2 separate regions of the Homo sapiens genome follow, and region 1 is linked to region 2. Evidence: fine-mapped expression QTL. A gene starts in region 2. The other region holds a variant in brackets. All regions are shown on one strand. Distances are from middle to middle. Region 1 overlaps BLVRA (biliverdin reductase A). Region 2 holds the start of BLVRA (biliverdin reductase A).

The links. PIP is the estimated chance that this variant, and not a neighbour inherited with it, causes the effect.
Region 1: its variant is the best candidate, but not a certain one, in a credible set for the expression of BLVRA in cerebellar hemisphere (GTEx, PIP 0.87).

What each region holds. Positions count from the first base shown.
Region 1 is chr7:43,790,443-43,800,082 of GRCh38, forward strand. BLVRA (biliverdin reductase A) reads left to right here. Exons shown (of 8, transcript NM_000712.4): 4 at 807-926; 5 at 2,273-2,370. Among named protein-coding and RNA genes, the nearest start is that of BLVRA, 37 kb to the left of the region's middle. The variant A/G (reference allele first, on the strand shown) is at 5,566.
Region 2 is chr7:43,753,359-43,762,998 of GRCh38, forward strand. It overlaps BLVRA (biliverdin reductase A), which reads left to right and starts at 5,322. Exons shown (of 8, transcript NM_000712.4): 1 at 5,322-5,376. It also overlaps the pseudogene LOC107986727. RefSeq lists a cis regulatory region at 3,238-4,005 and silencers at 5,027-5,416, 5,427-5,746.

The DNA.
Region 1 (9,640 bases), 37 kb after region 2:
AAACACACACACAGACACACACACACACAAACATGTGTGCGTACATACTACTGGGCTTCGTTAGCTTAGCTATAAAGTAGCTCGAAGTCGCATGCCAGTTTGCACCCTAAATGTGTTAACGTATTGGATTTGGATTAGGTTTGGTAGTCACAATGTTTGGCCAAGTGCTTGGAACTGGAAGTGACCATAGAGATCACTTCTCATGAGATAAAAGTAGATTGTTCCTTTTATTTTTATGTTATTTTATTTTTGAGGAGTCTTGCTCTGTCACCCAGGCTGGAGTGCTGTGGTGCAATCTCGGCTCACTGCAACCTCCATCTCCCGGATTCAAGTGATTCTCCTGCCTCAGCCTCCCAGGTAGCTGGGATTACAGGCGCCCACCACCACATTTGGCTAACTTTTGTATTTTTTGTAGATACAGGTTTTCACCATGTTGGCCAGGCTGGTCTTGAACTCCTGACCTCAAGTGATCCACCCACCTCGGCCTCCCAAAGTGCTGGGATTATAGGCTTGAGCCACCGCGCCCAGCTGTTTCTTTTGTTTTGGAGATGAAGTAATTCAAGACTCTCCCAGGTCATACACGCTGTGAATGGTACTGTTGGCACTCAATGCCAGATCCCCTGACTTGAACTCTGAGGCTATTTTTCTCACTCCACAATGGAAAATAGCCTGGAAGTGGGAGAGAAGAAACTCATTTCTTCATTTCTGGCAGCAGATCACCAGGACCTGTCGGGAGGAGGGGAGAAGGATGGTGCTCCTTTCTTCTGTCTACCATTGAGTTCCATTTCTCTGTTACTCTGAAATAGAAGGGAGCTCGGGAGCATTGATGGAGTCCAGCAGATTTCTTTGGAGGATGCTCTTTCCAGCCAAGAGGTGGAGGTCGCCTATATCTGCAGTGAGAGCTCCAGCCATGAGGACTACATCAGGTGGGTTTTCCACACAGGCAGTCCTTGCCTTACACAGCAGTGCAGTACTGCAAAAATGAGCAAGCAAGCTAAAACACCCTGCAAAGGAGTCAGAAGAGCCAGTGAGAAAATTACAATTGCTCTGTGACCAATCACAGAAGTGTCAAAACATTAAGAAATTCTTATTGCTGGTTATAAATATATAAGGAAGTGAAAAATAGTAAAATTAATATTTAGTATGTGTAATTTGAAACATTAGAAACATTCAGAATTAAAGTGTTTTATTTCTCTGTAAAAACCCATCGAGAGTAGTTTTCAACAGTAGTGGCCTCCTTCTTCTCACCAGACAGTTTAGGATGTGGAGCCGGCATCCTTGGCAAATTATCATACTCCCTTCTCAGTTTGGATCAGCTTCCAACGTTTTCTCCTTTGTGCTTTCAATGTCATAAAATAACGGTTGAGTTCCTTTAACCCTCAGGACCTGGCAGCTAACAGGGAAGTGCCAGCTGCCTTCCTCAGTCTAGCTTCCTTCTAGGTTCTTACAGCTGCTCCCACCATGCTGTTTCCCACGGGTAAGATGCTTCCTCTTTATCAGTCTAGCTCTAGAGTAGACAAAAACACCTCTCCTTGGCTTTCCTTAACCTTTTCTGGCACCAGAGTGTATTTCCTTAAGAAAAGTGATTCTGACATAAGTCCCATGCTTATAAATATTTGTACTCTGGTATCCACAGAATGAAATCTGAACTGCTGAGCACAGAATTGTAGGTCCTTCACAGTCAGGCCCCCAGCTACTTTTCCAACGTTATTATCCTCCACGGCCTGTAGTCCACTCCCCTGCCACACTGAAGTTTGCCGATTGAACAAAGCCCCACAAATGCCCAAGCCCCTGCATACGCTGCTCACAGTGAAATATACTCACATGTTGCACCTGGAAAATGTCTGCTCATACTTTGAGACCCAGTTCATAGGTCCTTAGTGAAATCTTTTCAGACTGCCTCAGGCAAAGCTAGCCGCTGTGGGTTTTGTAGCCTTTATAGCTACCATGTGGTGATAGGAAATTTATTTGTTAATGTGTCTTTATTTCTCCTCCACAGTAATTGGTAAATAGTACTTAGTTGAATAAATGAATGGTTGAATGTTCAAATTAACACATAACCAGAAAGTTGATCTGTCACAGGATAGTAGAAAACAATGTGGGATACAGTTCTTCCTCCATATCCCGTGGCACTGACTCCTACCCCCAGTCATGACACATTCACACACAGAAACTCTCATGCCTTTATAACATTCTGTTCTCTATTATGCAGAGCATTTCAGTGAAGCTTATTCGAAGTGTTCTTTCTCTGTATTTGTCTCGTTTACCAAAGGCAGTTCCTTAATGCTGGCAAGCACGTCCTTGTGGAATACCCCATGACACTGTCATTGGCGGCCGCTCAGGAACTGTGGGAGCTGGCTGAGCAGAAAGGTAATGTATCTTACCAAGAGTTTCTGCCTCCAGGATTTCTGTGATATCATCTTTATGCCTTTAAAACTTAACCCCATTTCAGATATCTCCTCCTCCTGGCTACACTGGCACTGTGGGCTCCCAACTGCCTCCTCACCCCCACACTGTAAACACAGATAGTGGAGGGCAGAAGGATGGGTGGGAATTTGCAAACTTTTGGTCAAAGCTTATCAGCTTATTTTACTCACTCTAAGGAAAAAATATGAATTAGTTTTCACCTATGCTTATGTCATGATATTATTTTGGCTTTATTCATGTGATACTTATATTGCTAAATGCTGGGATATCCTAAAAATGCTCAAATCAGAGAAACTGATTGTCTTATTTGCATAGTTTGTAGTTTTTGTTGTTTCTAAACAGGAATAACCATTTATTAAATATTTAGTATATGCTAGGAACTTGGAAACTCTGCTAAGCACTTCATATGTTATTTTGCTTAATTCTTCTAGAATCCCTTGGAGGTATATATTTTCTCTAGATGCTGTATAGAAAAATATGGCTCAAAGAAGTTAATTTGTGCCAGGTCACAAAGCTAATAACATGACTACTAAGTGGGAGGTAGAGATTTTAATCAAATCCTACAGGGCTCTTAAGTTCACATTTGTTCCCCTAAGCCATACCACCCTCCAGAAGGGAGAAATTAAGACTTTCCCAGGCCAGACGCAGTGGCTCATGCCCTGTCAGCCCAGCACTTTGGGAGGCCAAGGAGCTTGGGACAACCCTGGGCAACATAATGAGACCCTGTTTCTACAAAAATCTTTTACAACTTTTTTTTTTTTTTTTTTGGTGGGGTACAGAGTCTTGCTGTGTCACCCAGGCTGGAGTTCAATGGCACCATCTCAGCTCACTGCAACCTCCGCCTCCTGGGTTCAAGGGATTCTCCTTCCTCAGCCTCCTGAGTAGCTAGGATTACAGGCGCCCACCACCATGCCCAGCTAATTTTTGTATTTTTAGTAGAGATGGGGTTTCACGATGTTGGACACAATGGTCTCAAACTCCTGACCTCGCGATCCACCCACCTCGGCCTCCCAAAGTGCTGGGATTACAGGCATGAGTGACCGTGCCCGGCATACAAAATTTTTAATTACAAGAAAAAAAAAAAAAGACTCAGCTGGGCACAGTGGCTCACACCTGTAATCCCAGCACTTTAGGAGGCTCTGATGGATAGATTATTTGAGCCCAGGAGTTTGAGACCAGCCTGGGCAACATGGTGAAACCCCATCTCTACTGAAAATACAAAAATTAACTGGGTGTGGTGGTGCATACCGGTAGTCCCAGCTACTTGGAAGTTCACCTGAACCTTAGGAGGTTGAGGCTGCACTGAACCATGATCGGGCCACTGCACTCTAGTCTGGGCAACAGAGTGAGACCCTGTCTCAAAAATAAAAATAAAAATTCTTTAAAAGACCTACCCAGACAAACAAAAACCAAGTGAGTTGATCACTACTAGACCTGCCCTACAGGAAATGCTAAAGGAAGTCTTTCAAGTTAAAGTGAAAACACTAGACAGCAACACAAAAATATTGCTCTCTGGTAAAGGTAAATATATAGACAAATACAGACTTCCGTAGTATTGTAATGTTGACATATAAATCACTTTAGGCCAGGCACGGTGGCTCAAGCCTGTAATCCCAGGACTTGGGGAGGCCGAGGCAAGCAGATCATTTGAGGTCAGGAGTTCAAGACCATCCTGGCCAACATGGTGAAACCCCATCTCTACTAAAAATAAAAAAATTAGCTGGGCGTGGTGGCGCTTGCCTGTAGTCCCAGCTACTCAGGAGGCTGAGGCAGCAGAATTGCTTGAACCTGGGAGGCGGAGGTTGCAGTGAGCTGAGATGGTGCCACTGCACTCCAGCCTGGGTAACACCATGAAACTCTATCTCTAAATAAATAAATATCACTTTAAATCCTGGCATAGAATTTAAAAGACAAAAAAATACAAACTATGTTAATGGATGTATAGTATAAAAAGATGTAATTGGTAACATTAATAGCAAAATGGGGGGTCAGAGATATAAAGGAGTAGAATTTTGTATGTGATTGAGTTAAGTTGTTAGCAGTTTAAAATAGATTATGCAGTCGGGTGTGGTGGCTCATGCCTGTCATCCCAGCACTTTGGGAAGCCGAGGCTGGTGGATCACCTGAAGTCAGGATTTCAAGAGGAGCCTGGGCAACATGGTGAAACTCCGTCTCTACTAATAATACAAAAATTAGCTGGGCCTGGTGGCACGTGCCTGTAATCCCAGCTACTCCAGAGGCTAAGGCACGAGAATCGCTTGAACCCAGGAGGTGGAGGTTGCAGTGAGCCAAGATTGTGGCATTGCACTTTAGCCTGGGCGACACAGTGAGACTCCATCTCAGAAATTAAATACATACATAAATAAATAATAAAAATAGATTGTGCCTGTAATCCCAGCACTTTGGGAGGCTGAGGCGGGCGAATCACCTGAGGTCAGGATTTCAAGACCAGCCTAGCCAACATGGTGAAACCCCATCTCTACTAAAAATACAAAAATTAGCCAGGTGTGGTGGCGCGCACATATAGTCCCAGCTACTGGGGAGGCTGAGGCAGGAGAATTGCTTAAACCCAGGAGGCAGAGGTTGCAGTGAGGGAGATCGCACCACTGCACTCCAGCCTGGGCGATGGAGTGAGACTCTGCTCAAACAAAACAAAACAATACAAAACTGACAAGATGTAATGAAAGCAGTACTAAGAGAGAAGTGGATAGTTGTAAATGCTTACATTAAACAAGAAGAAAGATCTCAATTCAACATCCTAACTTTACATTTCAAGGGACTAGGAAAAGAAGAGCAAACTCAATCGAAAATTAGCAGAAAAAAGCAAGTAAAGATTAGAACATAAATAAAATAGAGAGTAGAAAAGCAATAGAAAAAAATCAACAAAACCAAGTTTTTTTGAAAAAAATCCATAAAATTGACAGAATTTTAGCAGATTAAGAAAAAAAAGAGTCGGCCGGGTGCAGTGGCTCACGCCTGTAATCCCAGCATTTTGGGAGGCCAAGGAGGACAGATCACAAGGTCAAGAGTCCAAGACCTGCCTGGCCAAAATAGTGCAACCCCATCTCTACTAAAAATACAAAAATTAGCCAGGCATGGTGGCACATGCCTATAGTCCCAGCTACTCGGGAGGCTGAG[A/G]CAGGAGAATCACTTGAACCCAGGAGGTGGAGGTTGTGCTGAGGGGAGGTTGTGGTGAGCCGAGATTGCACCACTGTACTCCATCCTGGGCAACAGAGCGAGACTCTGTCTCACAAAAAAAAAAAAAAAAGAAAAGAAAAGAAAAGAAAAAAAGAGTAAAGACTCAAACTAAAGTCAGAAGTGAAAGAGGAGACATTACAACAAATGCTGCTGAAATAAAAAGGATTATATGAGACTACAATGAACACTTATACAATTGTTATACTCCAACAATCGGATAATCTAGAAAGGGATAAATACCTAGTAGCATATAACCTACTAAGACTGAATCATGAAGAAACAAAAATCTGAACAGATTTATAACTAGTAAGGAGATTGAACCAGTAATTAAACACCTCCCAATAAAGAAAAGCCTAAAACCAGATGGCTTCACTGGAGAATTCTACCAAGTGTTTCAGTCTCTTCAAAAAGTGGTCCCAGGAAAACAGGATATCCACATGCAAAAGAATGAAGTTGGACACTTACCTTACACCATATAAAAAATTCACTCAAATGGATTAAAGAACTAAATTTAAGACCTAAAACTGTAATATTGTTAGAAGAAAACATGGGAAAGCATCAAGATATTGGATTTGGCAATAATGTCTTACATACGACATCAAAAACACAGGCAAAAAAAGCAAAAAACAGACAAATGGACTAATCAAACTTAAAACCTTCTGTGCCTCAAAGGAAGCAATCAACTGAGTGAAAAAGCAGTCTATGTAATGGGTGAAGATATCTGCAAATCTTATCTTTGATAAGAGATCAATATCCAGAATGTCTAAAGAACTCTACAACTCAACAACAAACAAACCAAATAAACTGATTTTAAAATGGGCAAAGGACTTGGATAGACATTTTTCTGAAGAAGTTATTCAGACGGCAAACAATCATATGAAAAGATGCTCAATACCACTAATCCTTATAGAAAATGCAAATCAAATCCACAGCCACCGTCAGTAACCACCAGCATCAGTCAGCAGCCATCAACATGGAAGCAAGACCTTCCTTCAGCAAAAAGATGGAGGATCAGATGGTAGCATTTTTTGTTTGTTTTTGTTTTTTGGTTTTTTAAGACAGTCTCGCCCTGTTACCTAGGCTTGAACGCAGTGGCGCAAACCTCCGCCTCCTGGGTTCAAGTGATTCTTGTGCCTCAGCCACCTGAGTAACTGGGATTATAGGTGCACACCACCACACACAGCTAATTTTTGTATTTTTAGCAGAGATGGGGTTTCGCCATGTTGGCCAGGCTGGTCTTGAACTCCTGGCCTCAAGTGATCCGCCTGCCTGAGCCTCCCAAAGTGCTGGAATTACAGGCATGGGCCAACATGCCCAGCTCAATAACGTATTTTTAAATTAAGGTACGTACGTTGTTTTCCTAAACATAGTGTTATCACATACTTAACAAACTACAATATAGTATAAACATAACTTGTGTATGAACCGGGAAACTAAAATATTCATGTGACTCCCTTTATTGCAATATTCACTTTATTGTGGTGGTCTGGAATGAAACCTGCAGGATCTCTGAGGTATGCATGTAACCGCATACAACCATCAAAATCTGGAAATTGGCATTGGTACATTACAACAATCTAATCCTCAAACCTCATTCAAATTTCACCAGTTGTCCCAATAACATTCTTTATGGCAAAATGACTGAGTTCAAAATCATGTATTATCTTTTATTGACATGTCACTTTTAGTGTCCTTCATTCTGGACAGTTCCTCCATCTTTTCTTGACAATTATGAATATTACAGTTAGTTATTGTGTAAAATGTCCCTAAATTTGAATATATCTGATGTTTCTTCATGATTAGATTTGGGGTATGCATCTTTCACAGAAATAGTATGCAAGTGGCCAGGCATGGTGGCTCACACCTGTAATCCTAGCACTTTGGGAGGCCAAGGCAGGCAGATTACTTGAGGTCAGGAGTTCAAAACCAGCCTGGCCTACACTGTGAAACCCCGTCTCTACTGAAAATATCAAAAAAATTAGCCAGGCATGATGTGGGCACCTGTAATTCCAGCTACTCGGGAGGCTGAGGCAGGAGAATTTCTTGAACCCGGGAGGCACAGTTTGCAGTGAGACGAGATCGCACCACTATACTCCAGCCTGGGTGACAGAGGGAGACTCCCCATCTCACAAAAAAAAAAAAAAAAAAAAAAAAAAAAAGGAAACGATGCTGTTTTTCACATTGTGTTCTGTCAGGTAACATCCAATATCAGTTCATCTAATTACTAATGATATCACTTCATTAGGTGGTGTCTGACGGGCTTTTCCACTGAAAGTTACTTTTTTTCCCTTTGTAATCAGTGATTATTTTGTGAGAAGGTAGTTTATAACTAGTTAAATATCCATTCTCATCACACTGTCTGATATTCATTTATTATTTTATATCAGTAGAAACTCATAGCTTTGTTTTGTTTTTCTATTCAGTGCTGTTGTTACTTTTTATTATTCATATTGATGTCCACATTGTTCCAAATTTGCTCAGTGGGGAACCTCTTCCTGCCAGCTCCCTTGTCATTTTGTTATGTTTCCATTATTCTTTGAATTCTTGCTTTCTGGCACAAAGTGGTTAAGGCTCATCTTGTACTTTCTCTGCCTCAGCCTTGGAATTAGTCAGTTCTCCAATGGCTAATAACGTTTTGATGGCAAGATTTGGACACTGCTTGTGCTTATGGCTTTGGGCTATCTCTGCAAGCCCTTTCAGTGAACAGACCTGGGAATATATGGATACGGATGTGTGTGTGTACTGTGGTTACCATGTGTGTTTATCACAATCAGGCATTGAGTGAACGACAGGAAAACAACAAAAGACACAGCTGGAAAATACATAGTTTCTTTAATAACCATGGATGTGGAAACACAGAGACTGTTACATAGTGCTGGGGAAAATATAACATGTTCCCCAGAGTTTCACGGTGGGGTGGGGGGCAGTGGGCGAAACTACCTGTGAGGAGAAAAGCTTGTACTTATTGCAAAGCATTTTGTGCCATTTAGTTGTTGCAAAGCCATTTTGTGCCAGAAAGCTTCTACTTATCACAAGAAGTTCCTTTTGCCACATTCACGTCTGAAGGAGTGGGTGGGAAGGACCCCATCCTCCCACACACCTGACATTTCTGGAGACTCCTGCGACAGACATCCTCCTTGCTCCTGAGGTGCAGGTCAAGCCCAGAGCATTTGGCAGTATTTGCTGTGATGCTGGGTTAGACAAAGGCAACCGTCCCAGGAGCATCTCCCACTGACCCAGATTTCTGTCTGTTTCAGTGAAACTGTAGATCATAACCACACTTTGTACTTAATCACAAAATAGTTCTGGTGTTTTAGGAAGCTTTTGGCCTAGAAATGAAAAAATTTTTATAGAGCGAAAAAATTTTATATAGCAAAAAAATTGTTAACAGCTTTCTTTTATAATCCAAAATTTATTTTATTTTATTTTTATTTTTATTTTTTGAGATGGGCTGCAGTGCACTGGTACGATCTTGGCTAACTGCAACCTCCACCTCCCAGGTTCAAGTGATCTTCCCAGCTCAGCCTCCCAAGTAGCTGGGACCACAGGTGCATGCCACCACACCTAGCTAATTTTTTGTATTTTTTGTAGAGGCCAGGTTTTGCCATGTTGCCCAGGCTGGTCTCAAACTCCTGAGCTTAGGCAATCCACTTGCCTTGGCCTCCCAAAGTGCTGGGATTATAGGCATGAGCCACCAAGCCTGGGCACGTTCTTACTCTGTTAGATTTTTATGCTGCACTGCCTCCTCCTGTCTAGAACAGTAGCTAACTGTCTCCTGGCCCACAGACACATCCCTGATCTCATCTTGCCTTTGGACACAGGTAGATACCATCTTGTTCTCTTAAATTTTCATTTCATTTCTCAGGTTTTCGTTTCATTCATTTCTCTTTTTTTCTTTTTCTTTTTGAAACGGAGTCTCACTCTGTCGCCCAGGCTGGAGTGCAGTGATGCAATCTTGGCCCACTGCAATTTCTGCCTCCCAGGTTCTAGTGATTCTCCTGCCTCAGCCTCCCAA
Region 2 (9,640 bases):
GGACACAATTCCACTCAGGGTAGTCCATTCACTACCCTGACTCTTGGTGAGTCTATCACCCAGGTGGAGGGAAAAAATGTGGGTGTGCCATCCTAAAGCTGTGGGTAATTGGCATGAGTTAGCACATTTTGCAGAAGAAAAATAAAATACTGGTCAACAAAAGGAGTCAATTAAAAAAACCCACTGCAGATTACAGAGGAAGCCAATAGGGGTGGAGAGGTAAATGATGAAACAGATAGTTGAATCATTTTTCTGGTAAACATTTTAAATAGCATTTTAGATCACTGCTTCCTTTTTCAAAAACAAGGAAGATTTTCCTGGGCAGTCTTTTCTGAGGAAGGAGGAGTTCCTCCAAATCTTTTTTTTTTTTTTTTTTTTGAGACAAAGTTTCACTCTTTTTGCCCAGACTGGAGTGCAATGGTGCGACCTCAGCTCACTGCAACCTCCACCTCCCAGTTTCAAGCAATTCTCCTGCCTCAGCCTCCCAAGTCCTGGGATTACAGGCATGTGCCACCATGTTTTCAAACCTCCCTCACCTGTACTTATAAATAAGTTCACATTTAGATTTATTCTCCTTTTTTTTTTCTGGATAATTATTTCTACCTGTACTTGCAGAACCTTACTCAGTGGCCCCCTCCCCTGGTGGTATCTCAGAGGATTTCATAAATAGGCTAATGCACGCTGAATACTGCACTGTCCTGCTTCTGCCTGAGATCCTTTCAAAACTGCAACATCTTGGTTGGGTGTGGTGGCTCACCCCTGTAACCTCAGCACTTTGGGAGGTCAAGGCAGAGGACCTCTTGAGTGCACGAGTTTCAGACTAGCGCAGGGAGTATAGCAAGGGCTTGTCTCTACAAAAAAATTTAAAAATTAGCTGGGTGTGGTGGCACGCACCTATAATCCTAGCTACTCAGGAGGTTCCACGGGAGGCAGAGGCTGCAGTGAGCTGAGATGAGCCACTGCACTCCAGCCTGGGTGACAGGGTGAGACACCGTCTCAGAAAAAAAAAAAAAAAAAAAAAGTTGAAGGGAGCTGGCTTGCCCCTTGCACCATGTAGGATGCATGAGAAGGCACCATCTTTGAAGCAGACTGAGCCCTCACCAGACACTGAATCTCCTAGCACCTTGGTCTTAGACTTCCCGGCCCCTAGAACTAAGAGCCATAAATTTCTGCTGTTTATAAATTACCCAGTCCAAGGTATTTGTTATAGTAGCCTGAATGGACTATGACAATACATGATGTCATTTTTTGGACTGTAGTGTTCATCAGCTCTTTGGAGATGACCATGCCAGACCTCTCTCCAGCAGTTCTCCCTGTGGGTACATGTACTGTGACTTCTTCCTCACCTCTACATATCTGGCATTCACCGCCAGCTTCCTGCCCTTCCAGGCAGCCTTACTGGACTGGATCCAAGGGCACTGTCTCCTGCATGGCCCATATCTGATCCATGGGAAACACAAATGCATCTTGGGACCCCTCGGCATGTGTGGGCTGACAGCCGACCACTGCATGCCTTTTTCAGGTGGGAGGTAAGTGACCAGAGAGTCTCCATGTGCACCAACATACCTAACAAGCTCCCCAAATGGCTGGAAGCCTGTAGGCATGAAGTGAAGGAAATGGGCTGCGGAAGCTTCCCTCAGTGGGGAGGAAGTAAACTCACAGCACAGCAAAAGCTCTGTCAGAGATTTCTTTTTTCTTTTTTTCTTTTTTTTTTTTTTTGAGACGGAGTCTCGCTCTGTTGCCCAGGCTGGAGCTCACTGCAAGCTCCGCCTCCCGGGTTCACGCCATTCTCCTGCCTCAGCCTCCCGAGTAGCTGGGACTACAGGCGCCCCCCACTACGTCTGACTAATTTTTTGTATTTTTAGTAGAGACGGGGTTTCTCCGTGTTAGCCAGGATGGTCTCGATCTCCTGATCTCGTGATCTGCCCGCCTCGGCCTCCCAAAGTGCTGGGATTACAAGTGTGAGCCACTGCGCCTGGCCTTTTCTTTTTCTTTGATACAGAGTCTCACTCGTCGCCCAGGCTGCAGTGCAATGGCATGATCTTGGCTCACTGCAACCTCTGCCTCCCAGGTTCAAGCAATTCTCCTGCCTCAACCTCCCGAGTAGCTGGGATTATGGGCACGTACCACCATGCCTGGCTAAATTTTTTTTTTTTATTTGTATTTTTAGTAGAGACGGGGTTTCACCACATTGGCCAGGCTGGTCCTGAACTCCTGACCTCAGGTGATCTGCCCACCTCGGCCTCCCAAAGTGCTGGGATTACAGGTGTGAGCCACCGCGCCTGCCCCTTTTTTTCTTTTTTTGAGACGGAGTCTCATTCTGTCGCCCAGGCTGGAGTGAGGTGGGGAGATCCCAGCTCACTATAACCTCTGCCTCTCAGATTCAAGCGATTCTCCTGCATCAGCCTCCTGAATAACTGGAACTACAGGTACGCTCCACTGTGCCTGGCTAATTTTTGTATTTCTAATGGAAACGGGGTTTCACCATGTTGCCCAGGCTGATCTCAAATTCCTGACCTCAAGTGATCTGCCTGCCTCGGCCTCCCAAAGTGCTGGGATTACAGGCATTAAGCCACCGCACCCGGCCTCTGTCAGAGATTTCTTCACCAAACCCTCCTTCCACTCTCCAATTCCTTCTTTTTATTTATTTATTTTATTTTATTTTTTACTTTTATTATTTTTTTAATTTTTTTTTTTTTAGATGGAGTCTCACTTTGTCTCCCAGGCTGTAGTGCAGTAGTGCTATCTTGGCTCACTGCAACCTCTGTCTCCCGGGTTCAAGTGATTCTCATGCCTCAGCCTCCCTCCCAGAGTAGCTGGGAGTATAGGCATATGCCACCATACCTGGCTAATTTTTGTATTTTTAGTAGAGACGGGGTCTTACCATGTTGCCCAGGCTGCGACCTGCCTGCCTGGGCCTCCCAAAGTGTTGCGATTACAGGTGGCTCCCGCCTGATTCTTTCTTACATCTTTGGAGATCTCTTCCTAGAATTTCACATTAGTATATCTTGTTGTCCTAATCAAAATCTATACTTTCATATCTTGTTACACATAGGAGAAAAAGAGCTAAGAGAATGACACAGAAATGGAGCTGGAGCCTTAATACACCTCCTAACTGTTAATCTGTTTGGGTGGGGTTTCTGTCACTTGTGGCCTACAGCAGTCTTACTGTCCCCCCAACCTCCCACAAAGTTCTTCAGGTTGAAGAGAGTCACTACTTTGTAGAATGGGAAGCTCTTACTCAAAAAAGTAGAAACTGAATACAAAACTAGACTTTAGAAGGATAAGATAAATAAATCAATGCATTCATAACACATCATTACAAGAAAGTGAGGGGGTTAGAGGTCTCATCTTTAAATTCTGCTCTCAAGGACATGGAGGGCCCCTCTCACAGGCTTTCCCAAAGCTCCTCTGGGTGTACTGGTCTGACTCAGCAAGTGAACATCTGTGGTTTTGCCTAGCCAGCATCCCTTCTCCTAGCAGCAGCACTCAGCATGTCCTTTTGGGGAATCACTCTTTTCTCTTGTGGTTTATTTAAAGTGACTGCACAATCAGACCCCAGAGTTTGGCTTATGTCCTAGGCCTTGCCAGTGAAAATATGGTACCTCATCAGTGGCAGTTATTTTTCCGAGAAAGGACATATCATGACCCAAGGGGCAGCAGCAGGGAGGGGTGGATGGAAGAGACAGATAACAAACAATAAGCTAAATAAACAAATTCAGTCAGGAGCTAAAGAAATAAGTCATTCAGGAGTGGGGCAGGTGGCAATTTCAAATGGAGTGGTTAGGGTAGTTCTCAATGAGGCAGCATTTGAGAAAATATCAGGAAGAGTGAGAAGTAGTCGAGCATTCCAAACAGACAGGAGCCTGTGCAAAGACCCTGCAGCAGAGCCCTGTCTGCCTTGCATAAGAAATAGCAGGGAGGCCAGAGTGACTGGAGCAGAGTGAGCCAGTGGGGAGGCAGTAGCAGATGAGGTTGTAGGGGTAACAGAGGAGCAGATCAGGCAGGGCTTTGGGTTTTACTCTGAGTTTGGGAAACCACTGGGAAGGTTTTGGGCAGAGGAGGAATTTGATCTGGCTTTCTTTTTTTAAGGTCACTCTGGCTGCTTTATGGGGACAGGCTGCAGGGATATCAGGGAAGAGACCACTGTCATGACCCAGGTAGCAGATGATGGAGGCAGAGGTAAGAAGTGGTCAGGCTCTGGGTATGCTAGGGAGATCCAACCAACAGAATTTTTGGGCCCTGGAGGTGGGATGTGAGAGAAAGGTTTCTGAAACAGCAAGGTTTCTGGCCTTGACAACTGGAAGATGGAGTTGCCATCGAGATGGTGATGCTATGGGGAAGAGATCAGGGGCACAGATTTGGATGTGTTGAGATTGAAATGTATTTTAGAGATCCAAGAGGAGGTATTAAGGAGGCAGCTGGATAGAGGAGTATGGAGTTCAGGAGGCAGGTCCCGCCTGGAGATAAAAATTCAAAGCCAAGCCTTCTCTCTTTGCACTCAACAAAACCTCACTTAAACAGGCTTGTCAGGTCATGGAATACGGTACTAGAACTCTTTGTTGGGGAAAATGCCAGTCAACCTTACCCGTCAGAACGCTGCCTTTAAGATCAGAGATCTCTTTCCTTCAGCCTAATCCACCCCTCTCCCTGTTTTCTCCCCTAGCCCCACTAGGCTAGAAGCTCCCTGGCTTCTCCCACATCAGGATCCCCAACAAACCCATTCCCAGGTGGATAAGAGCCCAGGCAGTTCCCTAGACCACGTTCACTACTTCCTAGCTACCCAAGAGCAGGACATCGCAGACACCGGCCTCCTGGAATATTCCCTCCGCTCCTCACATTTACAGGAAGGACTCAGGTAAGCCTCGGCGCCAGTTCAGTCGGCCCGGGGCCACTAAATACCAATGGGATCCAGTGGGTTCTACGTGGTGAGTGGGGGGCGGATAAGAGAGATGCGACACCCCCCGGGCCTGCCCCCCCCACGCCGGGGCCAGGCACACCGTGAGGGGGCCAGGCACACCGTGAGGGGGCCCAGCCACTTCCATACGCCCTCCGGTCGGCCGGCACCCACCACCCACCCCTCGCCACCAAGCTGGGTGCAGAGAACAGGGCAGGCGCACGGACGGTTCTTACGGCCCCAGGCGCCAGACCCAGGGCACAGAGGCCAGGATCTCACGCGCGACCGCACGAGGCCGGGACCCTCCCTCCCCTTCCGTCCACTCCCTTCCCCACCGCCTCCGGTCCCCTCCCGGTCTCCGCCACCCCGCTTCGGGGCCCCCGCCCCCCAGCCGGGCAGCCAATCGGAGCTGGGATCCCGCCCCGGTCCGCAAAGCCGGTGGCGCCCGGAGGCTGCACGGAGAGCGGTGCCCGCGTCAGGTGAGGCGCGCGCGGGGAACGGGGGTCGCGCGCAGGGGAGCGGGGGTCGCGCGCGGCTTCCATAGAGCGCTAGGGCCTGAGCTCGAAGCCCCAGGCCCGCAGGAGGCCCGGGCCCGCGGCCGCCAGAGCCGGGACGCAGCCTGGGCGCCGCCTGCCCCGCCCCGCCCCGCCCGGGCCCGGAGTGAGGACGCGGTCGGAGGCCCAGCAGCGCGGGTCCCGGCAAGGGGCTTTCTCAACTACACAAAAGACAGTCTAAAAAATTAAGTCTCCATTTCGGTTAAGACTGCCCGTAGTTTCGGTTTTTATGTAGACCCAAGAGGGCAGGCTCGGCGTCCGCGTGCCGCGTAGTCCGGCGGCTCCAGGAGCGCGAGCGGCTGGGCCCGGGCGTAGCCACCGCAGGGCCGCTAGCTCGGCCGGGACCCGCCTGGGATGCCCTGGGGTCTGCTCCGCTGGGGCGAATCCTGAGGCGCCACGCGAGGCACTTGGCCTCTCCTAGCCCCGCTTTCGTTTTTGGAAACTGGAAACTATCACTTATTTCGTAGACGGTGTGAGGGTTACATGACAGTGTTCTGTAAAGTGCACTCTACATATGAAGTGCTCAGAAATATGGCTAATAATGAGGGTATTTATAAACTACTTAAATTATAAAAAGAATGAGACATCAGACTTACAGTTTTGGATACTAATTTTTTTCACTTAACGTTCATTATGTGATAGGAGTTTTCCATCCTATTATACCGCTGTGCGATCTGATCTTGGGCACGTTAACCAACCTCTTGTTGCCTCGATTTTCTCACCTGTAAAAGTGGGGGTAATCATAATGCTTACTTAGTAGGATAGCCCTGAAGAATAAGTGACTTAGCGAACATAAATAGCTTACAATAGGGTTTTCAGCATGGGAAGGATTCAGTAAATGTTAGCTGTCATCATCACCACCTACAAAGGAAGCAATACTGTGCTGAAAGTTTTTCCATCATTAATGTAATTTCTATAGTACGATTCCCAAGAAGATATTAAAATTATGGAAATAAAGGTATTGGTATATTCCTAATTATTTCCTAAAAGATTGTATTGATAAATATGCTCATCCTTCCCTTAACGGGATGCATTCCAGAAAAACAAGTCAAATGTTAGACAAAGTATCAGAAGGGAAATTCTGTAGCCAGAGAGCTAAAAATTACAATAGGGTCTCTAATTATACTTCAACTTTTTTAGGAATAATTCTCAGTGTGTTTTCCCACATTTCATATGTAATTTTTTTTTTTTTTTTTTTTTGAGACAGAGCCTCGCCCTGTCACCAGGCTGGAGTACAGTGGCGCGATCTCGGCTCACTGCAACTTCCACCTGCTGGGTTCAAGCAATTCTTCTGACCTCAGGTGATCCACCCGCCTCGGCCTCCCAAAGTGCTGGGATTATAACAGGCGTGGCATGAGTCACCGCGCCCGGCCGATCTTTACTTTTTTATTCTTTGTACCCCCTGCCTATCCAGTTAGCATGTGATTAAAGTCAAAGATTTGCCACTTTGGGCCACATCTATTAATTTTCATCTTTGTTATAATTGTATTTAGTTTTTGATCTACACTGCTTATTACTCCCAGTCATTTTTTCTAGAACTGAAAATCTGGTAAAATACTCAAAATTGCACTGACTTCTATGTAGAGGCGACACTCCATCAGAACCGTGGGCTGACAGGGAATCCCACTGTGCAGGAGCTGCGCGCATTTTCATTTCTGATTCTCTTTGGCGTATCCAGGACTCTGATGACATGATCATATATTTATCAGTAGTAACAGGTTGGGCCATTTGTTTTTTGTGGTAAATCATATATTTAAGATTTTAGAAATAAGTTGATAGCCATGTATTTTGGAATTTGAAAAAGACATTGCATTACTCAGCTTCAAATTAAGCTTTAATCAAATAGTGAAACTTTCCATTAATGGACAGTGTATACCTTTTTGTGTATTTAAAAAAAAAAACACTGAATATAGTGCCTTTGTGACAGGGGAGCTTAGTTCCTGACAATGTCCTCTTGAGTCTTTTTTTTTTTTTTTTGAGATGGAGTCTCACTGTGTCGCCCAGGCTGGAGTGCAGTGGCGCCATCTTGGCTCACTGCAACCTCCGCCCCCTGGGTTCAAGTGATTCTCATTCCTCAGCTTCCTAAGTAGCTGGGATTACAGGCACGCACCACCATGACCAGCTAATTTTTATACTTTTAGTAGAGACAGGGTTTTGCCATGTTGGCTAGGTTGGTCTCGAACTCCTGACCTCAAGTAATCCACCCACCATGGCCTCCCCAAAGTGCTGGGATTACAGGCGTGAGCCATTTCACCCGGCCTCTCTTCCGTCTTTGAGCTGTGAGGAAATAGCTACATTACATGAGCTGCTAGATCTGCCTTATGGTCAGAAATGAAGGTTGAACTCTCAGGAACAGTGACATATATACACACTGATATTTCCAAAGTACAATGCCCCAAATTGATCCACAAAGGAATTAAGGTCATTTGCAACAAAATCACAGAATAGTAACAAATAAATAGAAGATAAATATGGCCAGGAATTGAGATGAGAGAAAGTATAAGTACAAGAAACTATTCCAGGGGAAAAAAAGAATGAAGTGTTTCAGTGTTATCCAATAGAATTTTCTGTGATTATGAAAATGTGCTATATTTAATTAATTTATATTCCAATAGCCACTCTGTGTAGCGGCTCCCTTATAGGTCATTGCAGGCCTATATTTTTGTAGTTGAGTCCCAAATTTGTTTCTAGAAAGGTAAACTTGGTCAGTTACATGGTTCTTGTCTTTTGAAAGTAAAACATACATGGCAACTTCATTCATTCATTCATTCATTGATCCCCCAAATGTTAATGGCCTTGAAGGAAGCAGAGCCTTTCCTGATTCTCAGTTATAGGGAAAATTTTCTGTGGACTTCATTATCAGAGCACCTTGATATGTTATTGCCCTGTGAAAGTCTGTTCAGTTTGGGGCTAGGAGGGATGCAGTCAGTGAAAGTGGCATAGTTTGTAATGTTTTTTAGAGTTTTGAATAATTATGTTAACTAATCTTTATAGAAAAGTTTAAAGTGTACAGAGAAGCAAAAAGAAAGTAGTCACTAAAAGTTTCACCACTTAGAGACATAATTACTGGTAATATTTTGATGTATATATTTCCAGACTTGTGTCCCATGTAGCTATTATATTTTTCTCAATAGATCCCAAAGTATCCAACTCCCTCCAGGGCAAGAGTTGCTTTTACCTTTACCCTTAGACCTCTGAGGCTGGCAGCTGGCCCCACCTGAGAGGGTCACCCTCTCCCTAATCCTTCCCCATACTTCTGTGAGTCACCTGGCTTTGGGGCAATAATAGATACTTGAGAGGGCGTTTGAGGAGGAACAAGGAGGAAGGTCACAGCTGTAGTTCATTCTGCATGATGTGTAATCCAGGCTTTTTCAACTCTGGCACTGTTGACATTTTGGGCTGGATAATTCTTTGTGTATGTGTAGTTGGGGTAGGAAGGTGTCCTGTGCATCACAGGATGTTTTGCAGCATCCCTGGCCTTTCCCTACTAGATGCCAATGGCACATACCCTTTTCCCCCCGAGTACAACAATCAGAAATGTTGGTGAGAAATACTGGGTTAATGAAAATCACTAATTTATTGCTGACAAAGCTCTGGAGTTTCAGATTCCAATTTGCATGTGGGAAAGAGACTGAAATCAAAAGGGAAACATAATGTAAGCCAAGGAAGCTGTTTAGTCCTGGCTGTGCTATTAATTTACTGTGAGATTTTGCATCTCTCCCACGTGCAAATTGGAATGTGAAACTCTAGAGCTTTGTCAGCAATAATTTAGTGATTTCCATGAACCCAGTAGTTCCTTTTTTTTTTTTTTTTTTTTTTTAAGATGGAGTCTTGCTCTGTCACCCAGGCTGGAGTGCAGTGGGACGGTCTCGGCTCATTGCAACCTCCGCCTCCCAGGTTCGAGCAATTCTCCTGCCTCAGCCTCCCGAGTAGCTGGGACTACAGGTGCACGCCACCATACCCAGGTAATTTTTGTATTTTTAGTAGACATGGGGTTTCACCATGTTGGCCAGGATGGTCTCGATCTCTTGACCTCATGATCAGCCCCATGCCCGCCTCGGCCTCCCAAAGTGCTGGGATTACAGGCATGAGCCACCGTGCCCGGCCCTTAACCCAGTAGTTGTTACTGACATTTCTGATTGTCGTGCTGGGGGGAAAACGGTATGTGCCACTGGCATCTAGTGGGGAA